Linked DNA regions of Homo sapiens. The protein of the gene in region 1 purifies or fractionates together with the protein of each later gene. This does not show direct contact. Each region holds a gene or a part of one and is shown on either strand. Other genes may lie near its edges.

Evidence for each region.
Region 2: the proteins of FSBP (region 1) and CPNE5 purify together in Homo sapiens (co-immunoprecipitation; one large-scale study listed by IntAct). This does not show direct contact.

What each region holds. Positions count from the first base shown.
Region 1 is NC_000008.11:94,434,067-94,438,400, reverse strand, and holds the start of FSBP (fibrinogen silencer-binding protein), read left to right. Parts: upstream 1-1,456; 5' UTR 1,457-1,532; coding exon 1,533-1,906; intron 1,907-4,334. UniProt on the Homo sapiens protein: Transcriptional repressor that down-regulates the expression of the fibrinogen gamma chain. Represses transcription of GSK3B gene promoter via its interaction with APBA1.
Region 2 is NC_000006.12:36,832,684-36,836,502, forward strand, and holds part of CPNE5 (copine-5), read right to left. Parts: intron 1-3,819. UniProt on the Homo sapiens protein: Probable calcium-dependent phospholipid-binding protein that may play a role in calcium-mediated intracellular processes. Plays a role in dendrite formation by melanocytes.

The DNA.
Region 1 (4,334 bases):
CTGTGAAACTGCTCAAAGACAATGAAAGGGTAGAACTATTATGGAATCAAATTACTCAGTAGCGTATACCAGACAACATCTAGCATTCCGTAGAACATCCAGCAATCTTTCACTGTTTTCTGAAAGATAATACACTTAAAGCTTTTAACACATTGGCTCACAGTGAGAGCTCAGTAAATGTAATTTGCTTCTCCATTGTTAAAAGAATGAAAAACAAGATAATTGAGAATTTATAGCATTTCTGTGGAACTACAGTTCCCTGGATAGGTGCTGTATCTAGATTCATTTTTGATTTCATTGGGTCTTGCACAGTGCCTGGGAGCATTTATATACGTGGTCAGTAATTAAAAACAATTTATTTTTCCTACCTCTTAATAACTATCACAGTTGTTCAGTAATAGTTTTATTGGATAGAACTATGTTCAAGTATGTTCTAATTTATTCCCCTATCTGGAAAAATATGTATATTGTGAGAAAATAGGTTTGTCTTGCTTACATTATTATGTATCATATATTTTCATACTGGGGTTAACAAATATATTCTAAGCACCGAAACTGGTGGCCTTGAAAATGGCTAGACTAGCTGTTTCCTTTCATAGTCCAAACTGTGTGAATATAGCTAAATAAAAAATCTGGCTCTATTATAATAGCAAATGTGATTTTGTATGTGGAGTCTTAAGGCGTGATTATACTGTTTCTCACCATGAACAGTGATTTTTTACACATGATAAGGCAGGCTAGCAAATTCACATACATTACGGCTAGAATAATCCATTGCTTTAAAAACATGATTTTTACCTGCTTTTTAGATTGAGTGTTCTATAAAAATTTTTTCTTAAGTGAAAAAAATATGCAGAGGCTAATGTAGACTGTAAAATGAAGGAGAAGCTTAGCTTTACTGTGGAGTCTGGGTCTGGGTGTAACCTAACTAGCTAGAGGATATGCAATTCCTGATTGACAGCAGATCCAGCATTATGCAGATTTTGTAAGGGAGAACACTCAGCTCAGAAACAGTGATGAGAGGCTCTGTTAGGAATTACTACATTCACTACTCATATCTTTTAGTTTTCTGTCTACTGGATTTGTAAATAAATAGCACAAAACAGTTCCTCTTTTGTTTTTATTAAAGTGATACTGCAATGCAGTTCAGTCTGTCAGCTAGGCATACATGTGTGAAATTTGATATTCTCACTAAATTAGCTAATTTTTAGCTGTGTTCCATGCTTATCTCTAGACCTTTGTGTATTAAATCCTGTCTCGAGCTGTTCCCTTTATACACAAGTGTGTTTTGCTTGTGCCTTCCTGTCTTCTTCAGTGAGAAGCTTTATGTAGGTCAGGCTTGGCTTAAGCAGATTTCCTGAACCTGCGTCAGCTTAAGCTGGAGGAATTTTAATAAACCCTCCCCTGTAGGCGTGGGCCTAAATGAGGCTAGCCTAGTTAAGCCTGATCTTTTTCTGTTTGTGAAAAGAGCTGAGCAGAGCTGAAGGCTGCATGGTGGTTTCAGAAACTGCCTACTTAATTTGAAAAGAACAATGGTAGGAAAGGCTAGATCTTCCAATTTTACCTTATCCGAAAAGCTTGATTTGCTAAAGCTTGTGAAGCCATATGTGAAAATTCTCGAAGAACACACTAATAAACATTCAGTAATAGTAGAAAAGAATAGATGTTGGGATATCATAGCAGTTAACTATAATGCAATTGGAGTAGACCGCCCTCCTCGAACAGCACAGGGCCTACGCACCCTTTATAAAAGGCTCAAAGAATATGCCAAACAGGAGCTATTGCAGCAAAAAGAGACCCAATCAGATTTTAAAAGCAATATTTCTGAGCCAACCAAGAAAGTTATGGAGATGATTCCCCAGATTTCCAGTTTTTGCCTGGTAAGAGACAGGAACCACATACAAAGGTAAGCTTTATTTTGTTTTGTTATGGAAAATTATGGCGCCTCCTATCTATTGGGCTTTGGCTTAGTCGTGATAGAGATATGCATAGTAAGCATCCCCACAACGGGAGCAATGAATAGTGTCTTTGTTTTGCATTTTTTAAAAAGAGAAAAGTGAGGCTATGAGGAATTTTTCTGTTGCATTTAAGCTACTTTTTACTGTCTTCCCCTCCCCCTTCCCTCCTGTAGTTTCTAAAAGTAAAGGTTAGGGAGGAATAAGTGGGTTGAAATTTGTGACATCACTTCATAAACTTCTTAAGCTTTAAAATTAAATTATTTAGTTTGCTTCTGAGAGATACTTTTTTTCTCATTTAAGATTACATTTCACTGGAATTTTCAATTTTATATAAAATTTATATAAAGTTAGCAGTTTCTAGAGAAATGGAACCTTGCTTTTTTATGAATTGTCATTGTCTACACTTATTGAATATATGTTAACTAACAAATATAAACAAAATCAATAAGTAAACTTGTTAATGGCATGATTGTGTATATGAAGACAGTTTAAATTATTTTTCTAACACGTTTAAAATAAAGATGAACACAACTAAAGGGAGTTAATGCCTAATTAGGGATTCAGTTTACTTAATAAAATTAAAAGTTTTTTGTTGTTGTTGTTTTTATTCCTTAATAGTCTAGTTTCACTTTGATCTTGGGTCGTATAGGAAAGAGTAAGCTTTCTCTTACTGCTTTGCAAGGATATCAAATTATGAATTTTAAAATACCCCTAAGAGCAACTGGGTTTTTTTAGAGTTAGAAGCAATTTTTTGGTTAAACTTGTCTTCTATGTAACTATTTGCCTTGGAATTTTCAAAAGTATTATCTTGCCACTAATTCAGATTGTAACCTCTGGCAAAATATAAAAATGGCAGCTACATTCTTATTCTGAACCATTTAGGGTAATTTAAACAAATTGTAAACTCCTTGTTAGTTTGAGGAGCCTTTCAAACAAAGCTTTACACAATGTGCTTTTCTATTGGTGGAAGAGGCATTATATAAGCAAATTATTGATTACTATGAAATCCCTTTGAAATTAGGAGAGAAGCAGAAAAAAACCACTTTGTAGCCAAGTGCATATGTTATTTTGGTAATTTACTAGGAAAGTATTTTTGAGCCTAGCTTCTTACCAGATACTGCTTATTTCTACTTGATAGCACAGTAAAAAAAATATCACCAGTGGGAATCCAGGACATGAATACACAGTGGATTAATTCTTGGGGCCACTGGTTAAAATGTTCACTGTGATGACAAATGATGAAATCCCAATAGCTAGATATCCAGAAAACTACGCAGTAAAATTGTTTTATACTGTGCTACTTATGCAGAATTTTCTCTCCCTTGAACCATGGAGAAAAGTGTTTTTTGCATCGCAGGTATAAAACTGTACCCTTTGGTTAGTAGGTATAGGTTTTTATAATTTGAAAACGACATGTAGAAACTGTAATTTTAGTTAGTTGCATATTTTAAAAATAACAGTGAGTAGAAGAAAAATAATATATAAATATACAAGTATCTGGTTACATTTTGACTATTTGTGTGTGTGAATATTTACAATATTCACACACAAAAAATCTTTTGGGATATGAACATTTCTCTGATAAAAATGAGTTGATTTGTACATTTCTATACCTATGGCTTAAATAATACCAATTTGTTAGGTTTTAAAGGGAAGAATATAAGAAACATGCCTTTTAAATTCTTATGTTACTGTGTCTACATTGACATTTTCTCTGTATTAGCTTATTTCTTTAATATATATATTTAATGTGCTTATATTTATTTGATTGATATCATCCTTGAATCTTAATAATCTCAGAAGTTTATAATTATTCTATAATCTTAACTATACTTCTACATAAATATGCCTGTTAATCTTACCAAACTCTTCCTTTTTAATAAGGAAAATACTAGTGTTTGCGTTAACATACTTAAAAATATATACCTGTTTTGTAAGGCTATTTATTTTCTGTAACTCACATTGACTTATGTCTTTATTTTTACCTCTTCCTAATATCAGTTTATATTTTGTGTTTTTGTAAACTGATCTTCAAAGTTCTGATTCTCAAGTCCTTCTCTGTCATTTTTGTGACCTGCTCTAAAGCTTTTTTTCTCCCTTTTTATATTGTTATGCCTTAGTTGTAATGTTTTAGCTAAAATGGAAAGGAATGTTCCAGATATGAGGCATATTTTTAATTTACTTGGTAGTATTATGTCTATGTTTATACTCTCTATTTTACATACTAATTTGAAATAGTAATTATGTGGTTTTAAAAACTTAATTTTCATATGCAATTTTAGCCTTTTCCCATTCCAGGTTTTAGCAGAGCTATTAATAGAAGCAGAGCTTGCTACTTTGAATTACATTTATAATTAATTGTTTTGTTTTTGGAAA
Region 2 (3,819 bases), on another chromosome or scaffold:
AATAAATGCATATCAAGTTTAAGCCACCATCAGTCAGATTTTCTGTTACCTACAGCTGAATCATTCCTACCCAAGCCTGACTCCTCTCTGCCCCAGAGCTTTCCAGCCTAATTCCCCAGCCTCCTCCCTACCCTTTCTTCCCAAGGGTAGACCATCTCGAGTATCGCCTTGAGTCTAAACAGGGTGAACTGTGAGCTGGGAAAGGAGGGATGGTAAACTACTACCGTGCGGTCTGGATGGCATCGAAGGCTGGCTTCCATCCTGTGACTTTTTGTGGTTTCTGCTCCCCAAGGATTCCTCCAGTTCTGGGTTTGCTGCTCAGAACCACAGGCAGCTGTTAGCAAGGAAGGCCTCTCCCATCCCTGGGGAGAGACTGCCTACCTTTTGGTCACACCTACCATAGTTGGTACTCAGGCCTCCACCACCATCCTCCTGGAGAACCCAACCTCCAATCTCAAGAAGCCCTCAAGGTCTTAAGTCTGAGGGAATAGGAGTTGGATCCCTCTCTCCAAAGTGTACTCACTGTGTAACCTTGGCCAAGTCCCTTCACCTCTCTGAGCCTCAATTTCCTAATCAGCAAAAAGAGAAAATACTACTATCTATCTATCCTAGTTTAAAAGACGTAGCAATTGTGATTGGCAGAAATATAAGATGGCCTCCAAGATTCCAGTCTCGTGGCACACACGTCTGTATAATCCCCTCCCCTTGAGAGTGGGCGGGACCTGGGAATATGATAGGTTAGTCACTCATGCGATTGGGTTATGATGTATAACAAAGGCGATCAGATATTCACTCTTGTGATTACAGTTACTTTACATAAGACTCTGTCATAGCAGATTAGGAGAGATTCTCCTGCTGACCTTGAAGAAATGAGCTGCCATGCTGTGAGGGGGCCATGTGGCAAGGGCCTGGGGGTGGACTCTAGGAGCTGAGAGTCACTCTGGTCCAATAACCAGGAAGAAAACAGAACTTTAATCTATCTGCTGCAAGAAATTGAATTCTGCCACCCACCGGTGAGCTTGGAGGAGGACTCAGAGCCTTGGATAAGACCACAGCCCTGCCAATACCTTGATTCCAGCCTAGTGAGACCCTGAGCAGAAAAGCCACTTTATGTCATGCCTGGACTTCTAACCTACAGAAACTAGGAAATGAGAAATGGCTGTAGTTCAAAGCCACTAAGTTTGTGGTAATTTGTCACATAGCAATTGAGAACTAATATAATAACCTTAGTTTGAAATATATAAAAGTATTATGTGAGGCCAGGTGCAGTGGCTCACACCTAATCCCAGCACTTTGAGAGGCACAGGCTGGAGGACTGCTTCAGACTAGGAGTTTGAGATCAGCCAATCAGCCTGGGCAACCGAGTATGACCTCACCTCTACAAAACAAACGAACAAAAAAAAATCAAAAAAAATTTAAAAATTAGCTAGATGTGGTGGTGTGTGTGCGCCTGTAGTCCTGGCAACTCAGGAGGCTAAGGCAGGAGGATCGCTTGAGCCCAGGAGTTGGAGGCTGCATTGAGCTGTGACTCTACCACTGCATTCCAGCTTGGGCAACAGAGACTGTATCTCAAAAAAAAAAAAAAAAAAAAAAAAGGAAGGAAGGGAGGGAGGGAGGGAGGGAGGGAGGAAGGAAGGAAAGAAAAAAAAAACAAGTTGTGTTATTTATTTGAATAGGTTAAAAACAGATGGGCTGGGTGCGGTAGCTCATGCCTGCAATCCCGGCAATTTGGAAGGCCGAGGCAGGCCGATCACCTGAGGTCAGCAGTTCAAGACCAGCCTGACCAACATGGTGAAACCCCGTCTCCAGTAAAAATACAAAACTCAGCCGGGCGTGATGGTGCATGCCTGTAATCTCAGCTACTCAAGAGGCTGAGGCAGGAGAATCGCTTGAACCCAGTAGGCAGAGGTTGCAGTGAGCCGAGATTGGGCCACTGTACTCTACCCTGGATGACAGAACGAGACTCCATCTCAAAAAAAAAAAAAAAGTTGAGTGTAGAAATTGCATACGGTTCAGCCTAATATGATGTAAAGTGCCTAGCATGCAGTAGGCACTCAGTAAATGCCACTGTTATTATTCCCCTAGCTCCACTGACCTGAGTACCTTAGTGTATTCAATGGTTAAATGGACTTCTTTTCCTAGCACTGGCTTTGACAGCTGCCGCCCTCCCCCAGGCTCCTCCCTCCCCCAAACCACCCTCTCCCTGCCTGTCAGAAGAAAGCGCTCAGAGCTGTTCACACCCCTTCTGAGAGACCCAGGGCACAGCTCCTGAGCCGGGCTGCCTCTCTGGCTCCAGGGCAACAAAACGCCAACCCGAACAGACAGCAGAAAACAATATCTCTGGGGCAGAACAACAGCTGCCCACCAGCCCCATACCAGCTGGTGGGGAGAGGGAAGCCAGCAGGGCTAAGCAATGGGCTGCTTCCAGACTCGCCCCGCCGCGTCTTCCCTGGGTCTTGGGAACCCACCATGTGGAACTGTGCATTGCTTCTCCAGCAGGACCCTGCGCAAGTGCAAAGGTTTCTTGTTATGTAAAAAATGCAAATCATTCTTTCTAACCAACATGCTGGGCCAGATCCCTGCGTGGAGACCTGAAAAATAGTGGCGCCTTTGGAGAATGGAACGTCAGACAGGTAAGTTTTGATTGACTCGGCAGGATGGCTCACACAGTCAGGAAGGGTCTAGAACAGGCCATCAGAGGAAGGAAGAGCTCTTGGCTCGAGGGAGGAGGGTCTTTAAAGTCACATTTTTTATGATGTCTACTGGTATCTAGTTCCACAAACCATCTGCCCTACTCACTTCCAAAACAACCCTTAAGAATCTCTAGATTGGCAGGGCACAGTGGCTGACGCCTGTAATCCTAGCACTTTGGGAGGCTAAGGCTGGTGGATCACCTGAGGTCAAGAGTTCGAGACCAGCCTGGCCAACATGGTGAAACCTTGTCTCTACTAAAAATACAAAAATTAGCCCTGTGTGGAGGCAGGCACCTGTAATTCCAGTTACTCAGTAGACTGAGGTAGGAGAATCACTTGAACCCAGAAAGCGGAGGTTGCAGTGAGCTGAGATCGCGCCTTTGCACTCCAGCACTCCAGCCTGGGCAACAGAGCAAAAACTCCGTCTCAAAAAAAAAAAAAAGAATCTCTAGATTGATCAGATCTCCAGGACACACACAGACCCTGGGAGCCAGCTATAGAGGCAAATTTTTATTAACTTCCAGGTATCAAATAAGCAACAACATCAGTCGCTATTCATGGATTACTTCATTTAAGCCTCATAACTGATAAGGATCATTATGCTTTCTTTACAGATGGGGAAACTGAGGCATAGACAGCTTAGTAGCTTACCCAAGGTCATAGGAAGAGAGCTGGGATTTGAAACCAAGGAGACAGATTCCAGGGCTCACATTCATAACCGTTGTGCCAAATAACCAAAGGCTTTCTAATCTTGGGCCCTGAGTTTACCACAGTCAGTAAAAATAATTGTTTGGGAGTATAGTATACTCTACCTGAAGCAGGGGCCTGAAACTGTCCATCCCCAGTGTCATTTGCCTTCAGTGGAGACTTGGCCCCGTGGTGGCCCTGTGCTCTGACTCAGATGTGCACCTGTGCCAGGCAGCTTTGCTTAGCTAGCTGAGCCCTAGGATGGGCACAGCAGGTGCAGGATCCTCCCCTAGGCACAGAGCAGAAGAAGGCTCTGTGGTAGGGGAGTGGTAGGCCCCTTCATGAGGAGGAAGGCAAGTGGAAACAAGTGTTCCTGGGAGCCAGAGGTGGCAACTCATAATCTTCCCTGAAACATTGGCCCCTCTACCCCAGCTGCCCA